Linked DNA regions of Homo sapiens: region 1 is linked to region 2. Evidence: fine-mapped expression QTL. A gene starts in region 2. The other region holds a variant in brackets. All regions are shown on one strand. Distances are from middle to middle.

Evidence for each region. PIP is the estimated chance that this variant, and not a neighbour inherited with it, causes the effect.
Region 1: its variant is the best candidate, but not a certain one, in a credible set for the expression of LINC00997 in whole blood (INTERVAL, PIP 0.58).

What each region holds. Positions count from the first base shown.
Region 1 is chr7:32,642,159-32,650,507 of GRCh38, forward strand. It overlaps the pseudogene DPY19L1P1. Among named protein-coding and RNA genes, the nearest start is that of MIR550A2, 87 kb to the right of the region's middle. The variant T/C (reference allele first, on the strand shown) is at 4,603.
Region 2 is chr7:32,754,956-32,763,304 of GRCh38, forward strand. It overlaps LINC00997 (long intergenic non-protein coding RNA 997), which reads left to right and starts at 3,331. Exons shown (of 1, transcript NR_036501.1): 1 at 3,331-7,969.

The DNA.
Region 1 (8,349 bases), 110 kb before region 2:
CTATTCTGCAGCCCATGAAGCAAGGAGTCATTTCAACTTTCAAGTCTTATTATTTAAGAGATATCTTTCATAAGGCTCTAGCTGCCATAGTGATTCCTCTGATGAGTCTGGACAAATGAAATTTAAATCTTCTGGAATGGATTAACTATTTCAGATACCATTAAAATCATTCTGATTCATGAGAGGAGGTCAAAATGTCATCATTAATAGGACTTTGGAAGAAGTTTATTTCAACTCTCATGGGAGACTTAGATGGGCTCAAGACTTCCGTGGAGGAAGTAACTGCAGATGTGATGGAAATGGCAAGATAACTAGAAATGGAGACTGAAGATGTGACTGAACTGCTGTAATCTCATGATAAAACTTAAAGGATAAGGAGTTGCTTCTTAAATGAGCAAAGGGAATGGTTTCTTGAAACGGGATCTACTACTGGTGAAGATACTGTAAACACTGTTGAAATGACAACAAAGAATTTAGAACATGACATAAACTTAGTTGCTAAAGCAGTGGCAGGGTTTGAGAGGACTGACTCCAATTTTGAAAGCTCTACTGTGGGTAAAATGCTATCAAACAGCATCACATGCTACAGGGGAATCTTTCATGAAAGAAAAAATCAATCGATGCAGCAAATTTCATCGTTACCTTAAGAAATTGCCACAGCTATCCCAATCTTCAGCAACCCCTCTGTCAGCAGTTGTCAACATCAAGGCAAGACCCTCCATCTGAACAACTTGCTGAAGGTTCAGATGATCGTTGGCAGTTTGTTTGTTTGTTTATTTTGAGACGGAGTTTCATTCTGCCACCCAGGCTGGAGTGCAGCTGTGCAATTTCGGCTCACTGCAGCCTCTGCCTCCTGGGTTCAAGCGATTCTCCTGCCACAACCTCCCAAGTAGCTAGGACTATAGGCACCCGCCACCACACTTGGCTAATTTTTTTTGTATTTTTAATAGAGAAAGCGTTTCACCATGTTGACCAGGCTGGTCTCAAACTCCTGACCTCAGGCGATCCGCCTGCCTCAGCCTCCCAAAATGCTGGGATTAGCAACTTATTTTTAAATTAAGGTATGTACATTGTTTTTTAGACATAATGCTATTTCACACTTAATAGACTATAGTACAGTGTAAACATAACTTTGATATGCACTGGAAAACCAAAAAATTTGTTATGACTTGATTTATTACGATATTCACTTTACAATATCTCTGAAGTATGCCTGTATGATCAAAATTTGCAAAGTCATCAGTCTGTACAAAAACAAGTATTCAAACAAGCAAGTATTCAAACTATGCAATGTACAATTTGAGAATTTTCTTCATATGGACGGTTCCCCCACATTTGTTACCCACATTCAATGACGTTATCATTCCTCCGAAATTCGTTGCATTTAATAGCTGAAGTCACTCAGTTCAACAAAACTGAATTACATCCTCTGAAAGTAGGGACAAGAAAACCCAATTACAGGACTGTAATGAAGGGCAAGGTCTTCTCCCTCCAAAGTTCTGAGTATATGAATTCAAATGTCCATGAAAGTGCTTTCTATTGTTTCTCCAATAACACAATGTGTTTTACTAGATCTGGTACAAACATAATTGCCATTCCAGATAATCTCATATAATCTGAAAATAGTGAAGAGATTTGGTTTAGTCATGCCTTACGTTTCAACAAATAAATATTTTTTCTTTATCTCTAATTTTAAATGCAAAATAAAAAGTGTGACAGTTTAAAATGCCAATGCTTTTTAAAGGCATTATTTTGAAATTTGAGAATTAAAGGAAATATACATGTGAACTGCTTCAAAAAAGGCTTATACAAATGTATGTTGTCTCTAAGTACAAGAAATCCATTTATTGTGAAAATAAATTCAATAAAAATCTCATGTTTCAAACTGCTAACACCTAGTATATAATTTTTATCACACATTTCATAACACTGATTATATTGCAACATAATACTGTGTAGATATTAACAAGAGGCTTTTCTTTTCTGCTTAATAATTTTTAATCAATCACTCAAGAATCAATAACTAAGGAATCTCAAAAATAGCTTAATTTTCCAATCTCTATTTTCAAACTATTAACTTATAATATTGGAAATACAGCATGATCTAATTGATTTATCTTCATAACTTCAAAATAAATAGAACACCTGACTAGTGAGTTATAAATTGTGGTTAATATTAGTATCAAACAGATCATGTTTAAGATTTATTCCAAGAGTTTTTACTAGAGTTGCTATTTGCTGGATCAATCCTAACTTGTTACTATAATGTTTAGGTTTAAAACAAATTACCCACCTCTGACTGCTGCTTTTCTATATTGATTACACTATTGCTCCATATTGCTTAATATTAACTATAATAAGGCTTTAAACACTATATTTATGAGTGCTTCCTTAAAAGACTGCTGGCACCATGAAGGTTATGCTACCTCTCTTCAGAGAATGTTACAGGTGTTAAGAATCCTGCTATCCACATAGTAACCATAAGAATGCTAGGTTTAAGAGACATGGCTTGAATATCTCCTGTTTGATGCTACTTAGGGCAGTCCCATTATTTAGGAAGACCCTTAGTTTGGAGTAGGCTTTGTGCATCTCAGGGCACTGTATCTTGATAACAGGTAAGCCTGGTTGCTTTCTTGGAGTTTTGGTCTATTTTTGTACCATACACAGGTTGAGTATTTCTCATCCAAAATGCTGGGACTAGAAGTGTTTTAGATTTCAGAGTTTTTCAAATTTTGGAATATTTGCATTTTACTTACTAACTGAGCATCTCTAGTCCAAAAAACCAAAATCTGAAATGCTCCAGTGAGAATTTCCTTTGAGAGTCACGTTGGCGTTCAAAAAGTTTTGGACTTTTCAAGTATTTCAGACTTCAGATTTTCAGATTACAGATGCACAGCCCGTACTGATAAGCTGCTCAATTAACCAGTTACATATTTCAATCTGAACTTATAATACAATTTTGGCTCACACAGGGTTTAATGTGTCAGTGATACGTAAATGCTATTTTAAACTTTACTATCTTTATAAAGAATTTCAGCTGGTTGTATGACAGAAAACATTGATCTTTTTGTCTCTGAAAATCTAAGATATCAGTATATCCTATCCTAAATTTACAAAAAACCTCTGTGAAAGCAGTCAACTTTGTTGAAAAAGCGGTGAGTACACCTCCATGTTTCCATCCATTGTTGCAATGACTCGAACTTGACCATTGCTTATTCATCTAAAATAGAAAATATATCTGGCAAGATGTTATCAGTATCAACTCTACCACCTTTATCATGTGGTTATAAACTACACTGCTCAAGGTTATCAACATAACCAAAATTCTGACTATAAAATGAAAGCATTAGCCAAGATATAAAGGCAATATAAATAGAAACAGAAACAAATGATTCAAATTGCACTATCAAAATGATAATACAATGTGGAGAAATAAAAACAATTCAGGTTGCTTCTAAATTGTTTAACTTTTATATTCTGACTATACCTCCTTAGTAGAATATACTCTTAGGAGAAAAATAAGTAGAGAAATACTGAACCATACTTTGTAGGATTGTTATTGGTAATGACATTAGTGTAGTAACTCTGAAACTATTTTGTGTGTATTACAGAATAATTTGTTTCTGGAACCTTTTTGTGTTTGAAAGGAAGTGTTTGTCTGAACACAATGAGATATATCAAAAGGGCAGAAAAGAGTGCCAAAATCATAAAATATCTAGAGATTAATAAAATATGTGCAAAACATAAAACATTGCTAAGAGAAATTAAAGGAGACGAATATAAATCTATGTTTATGGATTGGAAGATTTAGTATGTTCAGGAATGTCCATTCTAAATTAACCTAGAGATCTAATACACAACCAGCAGGTTGTGTATGTGTTGAAAGAGATGGGAGTAGTGACAAGCTGATTCTAAAATTTATATGGAAACACAAAGGACCTGGAACAGCTATGGCAATACTGACGAAAAACAAGGTTAGAGATCTTCATTATCAGATATCGAACTTATAAACTACAATATTTAAGGCAGTGTGGTACTGGCTTGAAGATAAACGGACAAATAGAACATAATGGAGAGTGTAGAAATAAATCCAAAAATATATAGTCACTTTATTTATGACACAAGGCCCACTACAATTCAGCGGGGAAAGAATTTTCTTTTTAACAAATGGTACTGGGTTAACTGGACATCCTATTTGGGGTGGGGTAGGGGAGGAAGAAATCTGGAACTTATTTCATACTGTATACAAGATTCTAGACAGATTATAAACCAAAATGTGAAAGCTACACCAAGATTTTCCCTTATATTTTCTTCAAGCTTCTAAAAGAAAATACGAGAAAATCTTTATGACCTACAGTAGGCAAAGACTTTTTAATCAGACACAAAAAAGACTACACATAAGAGATTGCTAAATGGAACTTCATGAAAATTAAGAACTTCATCAAAAAACCTCAAAAAGATCTGTGTACAAAAAGATACAATCACAAAATCCAAAAAGATGAAAAGGCAGGTCATAAGTGGTGAGAAGGTACTTGTAGAACATATATTCTACAAACAACTCCATGGAATTGACAAAGAGTTCCCATATATGAATAAAATAAC[T/C]CAAATATTTGTTAATGGGTGAAGACTCAGATAGGTATTAAAGAAAAGAGAATATCTAAATCAGATAAGCCATATTAAGAGGTACTCAATATCATTACTCATCAGGAAAATGCAAACTAAACCCATAATAAGGTACCATTTCACTCATCAGAATGACTATAATTAAGAGGACTGCCAATGCCAAGCACTGACAAGGATATACTGATAGAAGAAACTGGAATTCTCATACATTGCCAATGGGAGTGAAAACTGGTACAAGCACTTTGGAAAACAATGTGGATATATATCACAGACATATGTTGAGAGAAAGACATCGGACATAAGAAAATATGATTCCACTATATGAAACCACCAAATAGGCAAAACTAATCAATAGTGATAGAGATAGAAGAGTGGCTACCTCTTTTGAAGGATGGAGAAGGATACAGATTGGACAGGAACAGAGGTGAGCCTGCTTGGGGGCTGGAAATAGTCTATACATTGATCTAGTTCCTGGATACAAGACTGTATACATATGTAAAGATCCACTGAACAGTTAAAATATGCAAATCTTAATGTATGAAAATTATATATAATTAAAATGTGGGGAGACTACTACCGGCTAAATGTGTGACAATGAGAACATCAAAAAGATTTGCAACAGATTATAAAACATTGAATAAATTTTAAAAAAACCTATGCATATATAGTAAAAGAAAATGGCGGGACAGGGGATTTGTCTTTACAGAACACCATTAAATGTAGATTAAATGGCAGAATTAGAAAATTACCATTTGCAATGGCTAATGTAATAACTAATTCAGGCAAGTATCATCAATGGATGCATAATCAGTTGGTAAATGTTATAGAGGAAGAGGGTATTGGTGTCTCAAAGTATCATCCCACATTTCACTTATTAAAAGGAAAAAGGGCATTTTTATAATAGAGAAATATGACACCACCACTTAACTGTGTGATTTAATTTAGTAAATTCGATTATGGGACAAATTGGTTTTATGTGCCTCCAGATGTAATGCAAAGAAAAGGACACAACATCATATGTGCCATATTCTTCATTAAAATGTCCAATCTGGCTGGACATAATGGCTTAAGCCTATAATCCCAACACTTTGGGAGGCCGAGGCAGGCAGATTATTTGAGGCCAGGAGTTCAAGACCAGCCTGGCCAACATGGTGAAACCCTGTCTCTAATGAAAGTATAAAAATTAGCTGGGTGTGGTGGCACATGCCTGTAATCCCAGCTACTCGGGAGGCTGAGGCACAAGAATCGCTTGAACCAGGGAGGGAGAGGCTACAGTGAGCCAAAACTGTGCCACTGCACTCCAGCCTGAGCAACAGAGTGAGACCCTACCTCAAAATAAAATAAAATAAAATGGTCTAATCCGAATCTATTAATGAAGAAACGATCAGGCAAGTCCAAAATGTCAGACCTCTACAAAATAATTAGTTCAGACTCCTCAAAAATGTTAATGCCATGAAAAAAAAAGAGACTGAGATAAACTTTTCTAAATAAAATGACAACTAAATGCAATGTACAATCCTTAATCAGATTCTGGATCCAAAATAAAAGCATCAAAGAATTTATAGGACTAAACTATGTAAATAAGAATATGGGCTGTATTAAGATATTATTATATAATTATTAGTGTGAAATTTCTCAAGTATGATAACAGTATTGTGATTATGTAGGAGAATGTCTTGCTTTTAGGCAATATATACTGAAGTATTTAGGGGTGAGATCTCATCATATCTGTAGCTCATTTTCAAACGGATTAGAAAAATGTCTGTGTCGGTGTTTGTATAAGAGAGACAGCAAATGTGTCAAAATATTAAAACTAGTAAATGAAACTGAATCTAGAGCATTTCTGTAAGTTTCAATTTGCTCAAAATAAAAAGCCGGAGAAAAAACAGTAGAGAAAAATGTACTTTTCTTGTACTGCCTTTTTAGTACAAGATTTACAGGGGAACTAGACATAGCCCAGGTGAAGATAATAAAACAGTTGTTGGCTCTACCTTCACACCTGAGAACAACTGCGTAATTTATGTAAGGATCTGCCACAGGCAGAGAGTCTTTGCTGGAACCAAACAGCTTCTAACAATATAAACAAGAATCTGAAAAAGCTACAAACACAAAAATGAATATTTTTTGTGACAGCCACCCCTCCCCCAACCTGGGACACACATAAACATACACACACATGAATCTGGCAGATAAAGAGGAGTAGGGGAAAGTCAGAACTCTGTGAGATCACAATCTCACACAGCGCTTAGGTTCCAGGGTCTTGCCACGGCTGAATCTGGAGATGGATTAAAATTAACTAAAAAGCTGAAAACTAACCCCTTCCCAGTTTAAAGAGTGGTAAGATCAAAGGAATCCCAAGTTGAGCATCTGGAAAGTTGGGGACTGAGACAAAGAAAAAAGAGATCACTGTAGTTCATTTGAAACTGGAAGTAAACTAAAACAAATTAAAACTATACTACTGCCCTGCTTGGCAGGGCTTCATGTGGGATCCAAATTCTCAGTCTCTCTTCCTAGGTGCTTGACATAAAAGAAGATGTTCCCTTTCTAGGGAAATTGAGGCAAAAATGATTATCTAGTTCAATCTTTATTATTCTTTTACAGAAGTTGTCTTGCATAAAATAAAAAGCTATGAGACATGCAAAGTAGCAGGAAAACATGATCCACAATCGAGAGAAAAAAACAGTCAATGGAGTTAAATTCCCAGATAATGTAGGTGTTGGCATTAGAAGACAGACTTTAAAATAACTATGATAATTAGATTTTAAAATGTATAGAAAAATATTAGTGAGATGAATGAAGAGATAGGAAATTTCAACAGAAAAATGGAGGCTCTAGGAAAAAAATGGAAATTCTAAGAAGTAACGAAGGAAGAAAGGGAAAGAGAGAGGGAGAGAGGGAGGGAGGGAAGGAGGGAAGAAAGAAAGGCAAGAAGGGAGGAAGGCAGAGAGGGAGGGAGGGAATTTACCAGAGAGTGATAATAGCAGACTGCATGCATCAGAATAAAGCATCCATCAACTCCTAGACATGGCAAGAGAAAATACTCAAAGCGAGGAATAGAGAGAAAAAAAATGGGGAAAAAAAAAAAAACAGTGTCAAAAATCTGTGATAGTATTTTTAAAAAGTTGAACATACATGTAATTAGGATCCCCAAAGAAGAAGAGAGAAAGAATGGGGAAAATAAAGTATTTAAAAAGAAGATCTTGGCTAGAAATTTTCCAAAACTGATTAAAAATAAAAACTAACCCACAAAACAAAAGCGTTCAATGAACAAAGCACATCTAGGTTCACCACCATCAACCAATAAAAAACAAATATATAATGAAAATTCTCAAACAACAGAGAAAAGACACATTACATTCAGAGGAACAACAACAAAAATTATAGCTGACTTCTTATAAAACGGTAGAAACCAGAAGATAATGGAATGGCATCTTTAAAGTGCTGAAAGGTAAAGCTATCAACCTATAATTCTTATGCAGCAAACATATACTTCAAAAATGAAGGCAAGATAACATTTTTAGACAGACAAAAACTAAGGGACTTATTGGGATATCTTTATCACAATGCTAAATAAAATTCTTAAAACTAAAGAGAAATTATGTCAGATGGAAATCCAGATCTGCAGGAAGAAATTAAGAACACCATTGAGATGCAAACTGAAATGCTCAGTTGTGAAGGATAACCGGGAGTTAATTAGGCAGAGGTCAAGATGAGGGGCACAGAGGC
Region 2 (8,349 bases):
CGAGGTATCCAAAGCCAAAAGCCCATCCCCATTTAGAACCTTTTTGGCTCCCATGACTCTCTTTTCCATTTGGCTTGTCTATTACCCTGGCTATTATTTACACACTAAAGTTCATTCTTTGAGTTCATGAGAGAACAGTTTCTGGGGTCTTTAAATTTTAAGAGAGGAACTTATGATATTCTGCTCAACTATAAGGATACACACAACTAATAAACGTGAAAGGTCCCCTCCCTTTCTTAAAAAGATTGTGCTTACTATTTTTATCTGATAAAGAGGATCACTCTATAAATATATTATTTGTCTCAAATTATGACTCACCTCTGGATAAAGATGGAAGCATTTTACTGCATTAATTCCAAGAGGATTTCAGTAAGCCTGTCATTCATTATCGTCCCCAGTCCTTCCAAAAATGAAGGTGCTTCAATATTGGTCTCGAAGTAGGAATAAAAGTCCCTTTAAAAAAAAAAAAAAAAAAAGAAGGCACATGTTGTCAATGTAATTAAAACTTTAAAATATTTATTTTTATCACTTCTTTAGAACATTTTTTTCTGAAAAAAAAGGTCAATAATAAGACTTCCTAATTACGCCTCGCTATTTTGCATTCTTGGACTTTAAAAAGCACGTATTTTCAGGTGATCACTGTACTATTCTTTCAAGTTTTCTATAGGCTTTCAAACTAAAGAGTTGGAGGGATGGTCGAATGATTTAAAGAGTTTCTCTAATAATGTCTTAAAATGTGTAGACAGTATATGTTCAATTTTCCCAAATCTGGTTTTATCCCCCACATTTGAGATGCTTGAAGGTTGACATCTGATTAATTCTGTCATAAACAGGGATGCCTTCATGCCTCTGTACAACTTTGCATATAGAAAATTACTTCTTTTTTTCCCATGCTCTTAGGAAATAAAATATAATGACCATAAGCATCATGAGCAAGGAATCCAGTGCTTCTAGCTTAATTCATAGCTCCATCTAATCCTCTGTGCTAAGTGAAAGCTCAATGTTGATTGACTATTGTTGCTCACAAATACTATGTACTAAAAAGCAGATTATTTTAGTGTCTTACACTTCAGCATATAAAATAAAGGCTTCATTAGGATAGTAAAAGTGCTGTTGAGTTAAAATTCATGGATTAACAATAGCATGTTATGTCTTATTTCCCCATCAATTTCTTGCTTTCGCTCCTAAAATCTAAAAGCAAAAAAGGGCCACATTGTTTAAAATGCATTCTCCCTAAAAAATGCTATATGCTATAATCATATCTGCCTCATCCAACACGAGTAACTACTAAATTAAACGTCTGTTTTAGCTGATGTCTGAAAGGCCATTACCTCATAGTTGATTGGCAAAATATGAGTTCATAAAGAATTTTCCTTTCTGCTTAGGAGGATAAAGCAATACAATAATTAAAGGATATCTAATATGCAAAAGTCTATATTTAGGGAAATATTAAATATTCTCTTTAAAATGTTCAAATGTCATACATATGTTAATGTATCCAATGCTTTGAAACTTTATAGGGGCAATATAGGGATGAAAATTAAAAAGCAGTGACGGAGGGGCCTGGCATAGGCAAAATCATAGAGATAGAAAATAGAGCTGAGTGTGATTAGTGTTTAGTGGGTGGAGTTTCTGTTTGGGATAGCAAAAAGTTCTGGATGTGGACAGTGGTAATAGTTGCAAGACAACACGAATGTACTTAATGTCACTGAATTGTACGCTTAAATGATAACCATTGACATTTTTCTATTACAAACTTAAATCTAAATTTCACCATAATTTAAACAAAAAGCAATGGCTAGAGTGAGGAGAGTCAGCTTCAATGCTTCAGTAGGCCCCCGACCAGCTGGGAGCAGATCTGGAAGATGGACGGTTGTGGTGTCTTCTAAATGTAAAATTGCACAATTTTGGTATTCGCTATCCCATTTACTCCTCACAATAATTATGTGAGATGTGTATGGCAGAAAACTCCATTTTAAAGATTAAGTATCGAAAAACAGAAAAATATTTAAAAATTATATCAAAAGTCATCTCTTAAAAGAGATTATCTTGAAATCAAAAGAGAACCAAATAATAATCATCATCAGTAAAAGACCCAGTAAAACATGGGACCTCCCAACTGTAGCCAAAGAAAAAGCAATTTCTGATAACATCTCATTTCATTCCCCTTTATCACTTCTTCAGTGCTTTCTTTGTCCTCCTTCCTCAGCTACTATAATTCATCTTCATTATCTTAAAAAGAAGTCTGCATTAGGAAAGGGTGAGAGATAATGAAGTAACAGAAAAATAATCTCAAACACTTTACTATTTAAATAATAAACCTGGGTTATAGCTTATGAAACAGTGCAATGAAGTATCATATTACAATAAGAACAAGTTTCAAAACCAACATTAAAATAAGCGATAAGTAAGAAAGCCATAAAAAAGGAAACAATAAATTGTTATAATATTGTTTTTATAATTTGCTTACTAACTCGTATGTTTTTAGGCATTTATAATGCAGTATGGCACACACCTGAAATTCCTTAACTCAGTGGTTTTTAAACTTAATTGTTGCCGGGTGCGTTGGCTCATGCCTGTAATCCCAGCACTTTGGGAGCCCGAGGCGGGCAGATCACTTGAGGTCAGGAGTTTGAGACCAGCCTGGCCAACATGGTGAAACCCTGTCTCTACTAAAAATACAAAAATTAGCCAGCCATGGTAGTGCATGTCTGTAATCCTGGCTGCTAGGGAGGCTGAGGCAGAAGAATTGCTTGAACCCAGCAGGCGGAGGTTGCAGTGAGCAGAGATCATGCCACTGCACTCCAGCCTGGGCGACAGAGTAAGACTCTGTCTCAAAAAAAAAAAACCAACTTAATTGTATATCTAAAATTCTTGTGGCTTGTTTCACCCTTCCTTCCATCCCAGGCCTCTAAATCAGAACAGAGGCAGGTTAGTGTTTGTTTTTTAAGTTTCAAGTGATTCTAATGTACCAGCCTTGGGAAATACCTCCGTAACTGTTGAAAAGGGTTCAGAATATAATTTTAAATAAAATTACTTTAGATCAAAACAGACTTACAATAAGTATAATATCACATAAAGGATCAACTTTCAAGCGCCAAAGAATACAGGTGTGTACTTGAAGACCTTTTAGTAGTGAAACTCAGCAGCTGTAGGCAGTGAAGAAAGGAGCATATGTGATAAACAAAATTAGCTGTGGTCAACAATTATGCTATAGCTAACTTATGTAGTCAGTACTTTCCAGTGAAGTTGAAAATAAAGCAAAGTTCCATGTATTAACCCTGTTTTCCACTAACCCTTCTTTACATGTAGGACATATGCCAGGGTACCAAAAACTGCAGGAATATTCCCTAGCATTGCAGCCTCAGTTCTAATACCAAAATCTCCCTGCAGACTAAATGTCTAGAGCAGCACTGTATCAATAGAACATAGGGGCAGATCTCATACCTTCCAAGGGTAGAAATCGCTGAGCACAGGTAAAAATAAAATATTCCAGAGGGAAATATTATTTTACAAATTTTTATAAACACTTTTGTAAAATAATGTACACAGCCTTGCACACTGAAAGAGTCAAAGCCATTTAACTCTGTATAACCACTGCAGAATCTTTATCTTCTTTTTTACCTGACTTCCAATTGGCGGGTGTTACTAAAACTTTATCACCAAAGTTATTTCACTAGCTGAGCGTGGTGGCTCATGCCTGTAATCCCAACACTTTGGGAGGCCAAGGCAGGTGGATCATTTGAGGCCAGGAGTTTGACACCAACCTGGCCAACACGGTGAAACCTCATCTCCACTAAAAATACAACAAATTGGCTGGGTGTGGTGGCGCATACCTGTAATCCCAGCTACTCAGAAGGCTGAGGCACGAGAATCACTTGAGCCTGGGAGGCATAGGTTGCAATGAGTCAAGATCGCGCCACTGCACTCCAGCCTGGGAGACAGAGCAAGACTGTCTCAAAAAAAAAAAAAAAAGTTATTTCACTAGCAACATATAATTACCATAAAACAAAGGAGGGTTTTAAATGAACTACACATGCAAAATACACTAGAAAAGCTAGATATTTTTAAAAACGTGGTGAATTATTTGGTAAAGCCAAAATATTTTAATTCATAAGTTACTATTCCCCCAATGCATCTATTTTGTAAATGCTGTTTCACATATGAGGTTTGTAAAAAAGCAAAATATATGTATAAAATGGCGTACATAAAGATGTTCTACAAATATAGCCAGAAGTTATTGTTTTACTGTATGCAAAGAGTGATGGCAATTTTTAATTCAAATGTTTTTAAATATTTCGAACTGAAACTAAATCTTACCAATGTAAAATTGCCACAAAGACGGCTGGAAAAGAGAAAAGTTATTAAAAGCTGCTTTATTATAAAATACCATTAAAACAAGTATTTCAAATGTATTATTTTACATGTCTAGAAAAGATAGCACAGAAAGCAAGATGGCCAGCTAATCCTGTCTCTATGAGCATAGGAAAAAATCCAGGACACAAAGTAAATTCTGAACAGAGCTTACCTCTCTGCAGCAGGGCTTGACAAGCAAAGGGAGAGACTTGAGAGGGTTTTTTTACTTCAGTTAATTGGTAGGAGTGATGGAATTATGGAATATTGTGACCTTTTTTGTTTTTTTTTCTTTTTAGTATTCTATTCCTTTATATGAAATTTTTTAAAGAAGTAAATATATACAGTATGCTTCAGCTCGTTCTAACCAAGAGGTGCCACTCTAGATCAGTTTCTCTAGCATTCATCAGAAGACGATTAAATGCAGGCAATCACTTCCTCAGCAGCACATCTAAAAGCCCCATTGTGCAACTCAACCCTTGATGAATTGCAAGCTCTTTGCAAGCGCCCAGACTTAGGAACTACTAGATGGCCTAGGAGACTTATCTGGAGGCACCTGTGCCAGCACCCCATGTATACGTAAGACTTCACCAGGGAGCTGGGAGACACTGCTCTGGGTATGGAGCTTTTACCAGAGCTGCAAACGCAGCCTGTGCCCCTGTTTCGTTGGGGAATTGCTTGTTTTCAAGGGTACCATGGAGCTGGAGAGAGAAAAGTGGGGAATAGAACAAGTTAAAACACCACAGACTTTGCTGTTCTTATAGAGGTTCAGCAGCTTTTCTTGAATTAATGCCCTTTAGATTGTTGTAAACCTTTGGTTAACTTCCAAAGTTTTGAAGAAAATGATTTTGATAATTTTCCAAGTATTTTCATTGTCATCATGGAGGAGTGCATTTCCTTGGCTATTCCAGAAGTCCTACCTCCCTTCTGAGATTTTATAATGGTATTTCTTATGGTTATCCCAAATATACTTGGCAAGTCGTCTTATAAACCACCAATAATAGCCTCTTAAAAATTCAAAAATTACTCCTCTTGGCTAACAAAATAAATGCAAATTAATTTAATAATTGTTGAAGAAATTAAATTTTTTAAAATTAAAAAATTGCAATGTTGAAATTCTCAACCATGCTTATCCAGACCTTTTCCTATACTACTAACTGCCCTGGGCTTATCTTAAATACTTCTCAGAAGATTTACTTGTTTTACACCAGGATAGGCAAAGTATGGCCCACAGTGTATTTTTGGACTGTCTGCAAGCACAGTTGCTATAATTTTTAAAAGGCTGAAAACTTTAAATTTTTGTAAATATGCTCATTAACTGTTTATTAGGCTTCATTAATTTTAAAATATACAGAGACTATCCTATTCAACTATATTTGTATCCTATTTCTAATTCTCCTAACAATTATATACACTGGCAAAAACTCTTCAGATGATATATAAGGAAAAGGTCAAATATACTACCGAATTCATCCAGCTTTCCAAAGATGCTCAAAATCTTTCTGTGTCTCTCACTCCCTCCCTTAACCCACATACCACATCTGAAAAAAAATGATATGGTGTAACGATGCCAGTATTCTAAATGCTTGAAGGGCTTATCACATGCCCTTTCCAAGCTGTGACAGAAGCATGTCCCTTGGACCCCGGCATCCTGTCAATCTCACCTCTGAAGGTGACCCAGTCTCATACTTCACTGAAACAAAGACCATTAGACGCCAGCACTCCCGACTTCTTTTATCTCCACTTTAACATTTCTCCATATAGTAATCCTCACTTTTCTACTCCCTGTCATCTCAGAAAAGGAATTCTCTCTCCTCTTTTCCACAGTTAGCTTCTCAAATTTGTGCCTTTAATTCTACCCCTCCCAAATATTCCAAGACTTGCTCCACTAATTATTTCCTCTCTTGGAATCTTAATCTCATCCTCTTCCCTTGATCCCTCCCCTCAGCCTTTAAAACTCCTAGACCTTAAAACACTCTCTGTGATCTGACAGCCCTTCAAACCAATATACTCCCCATCTCTCTCCCCTGGTTCAATGGCAAGATCTTTGGCCAACTGCTTTCTACTCGGACCTTGCTATTATTTGCTACTAGGCACCCACAAACCGTTGCTTGTTAAACTGATCTCCTTCAAGACTTAAGAAAAGCGCCATGCGGCTCCCTCCCAGGGCTCTCCTGCCCTCTCCTCACCGATGCCAAGAGTGGTCCTGCTGGAGAACTGCCGCGCCTGCAGTTCGTGCACCTTTTCCCGAAGCTGCGCCAGGAAATTATGGACGAACTGGAAGGGGCCGAGAAGAAGGGTCTTGGCCCCCAACTGTAGCTCCAAGCCTTTTTGTGCTTTCAGATTTCGGATCCTCCGCGTGGAGCACCTTGGGGCGCCCCTTGGCAGGTTCCCGCCGCATAGGGCCGACTTTTCCACCTCTGGCTCCAGGGCGGGAAGATTGTAGCGGCTTTGAGCTTACTACTTGTTTTCTTATAATCCCTGGCGGAGCTGGGTCAATTTCAGGCACAGCCCAGCTCAGTCAGGCGAGGTCCAGAAAGGCCTGACTTGCCTGGCAGCCTCAACGGACTTGTCCCCGCAGCCCTTGCGGACCTCCTGGTCGTCATGGCGACTGTGAAATGTGGGGTGGGGAGCATGCGTTCGAAGCCATTTGCGCGGGCAGTCCCTGCGTGTCCCCCCACGTGCTCCCCAGCACTCGCAGGACCCCCGCCTCCGAGCTTCCCTGAGCGTGCAGCTTCCAGTGAGGGCAGCCCCACGCACAGCCCCCCACACCCTCCCCAACGCCTTCAGCCCCCGGTGCGCGTAGTCCCCAAGCCCACACGTGCACTCTCCACCTTGCGGCAGCTGCACGTACAGCCCCCCACACGCTCCCAGCCCCACTGGCGCAGAACCCATCACCGCTCGCCCTTCACGCGCTTCACTGGGAGTGCAGCCCCCACCCCGAGCGCGCAGCTCCACGCAGCCTCTCCACACTCTCCCCAGCGCCTGCAGCACCCCCAGTGCGCACAGCTCTGCCAGTCGCTTCCCCGCGTGCCGCCCCTGCACCACTTCGGGCCATAACCTTGCTGGCGACTAAGTCTGAAGAACTTCCCGTGATTTAATTCTTTTCTTCGAGTTTAGTCTTAGCTTTGACATTTTAACCAAAAGGTTACACGTTAATTTATGGTATGAGGTCACCACTTCTCCTATTGTCCTTCTCAGTTTCTCCCCAACCTCTCCTATTCCCTATTTTATAAGACAGGAGAAAAGGGAGAAAGCAAAAAGTTAGAAAGAAACAGAAGTAAGATAAATAGCTGGAGGACCTTGGCACCACCACCTGGCCCTGGTGGCTAAAATAATAATAATATTATTAACCCCTGACCAAAACTATTGGTGTTATGTGTAAATTCCAGACACTGTATGAGAAAGTACTGTAAAACTTTTTGTTCTGTTAGCTGATGTATGTAGCCCCCAGTCACGTTTTTCACGCTTACTTGATCTATTATGACTTTTTCACGTAGACCCCTTAGAGTTGTAAGCCCTTAAAAGGCCTAGGAATTTCTTTTTCGGGGAGCTCCGCTCTTAAGACACGAGTCTGCCGACGCTCCCGGCCGAATAAAAAACCTCTTCCTTCTTTAATCTGGTGTCTGAGGAGTTTTGTCTGCGACTCGTCCTGCCACAAATTAACGAAGTATTAAAGGGGAAGATCTCAGCTGAAAGAAATGACTGTAGGAAGTGTGTCAGGAAAGCCAACGGACCCGCAGGCCCGCCCGTGGTGCCCGCGGCATTAGGAACGTCTCTGCTCTCCTACGATCGCTGGGGTATCGGACAGTCAGTGCCCGCTGTCAATGCGGAGGGAACGGGCCGAGACTGCGGGCAACACGTGGCAGAGCCGGCCTGAGTCCGGTGGGTCTGATCCCAGAGCCTCAGGTTGACGCCAATTCCTTGGCATGGGACAGCGTTTACTGAATCTTAAAGCAAAATGCTTTTAAAATAAGGTTCCTCAGAAGTCGTCAG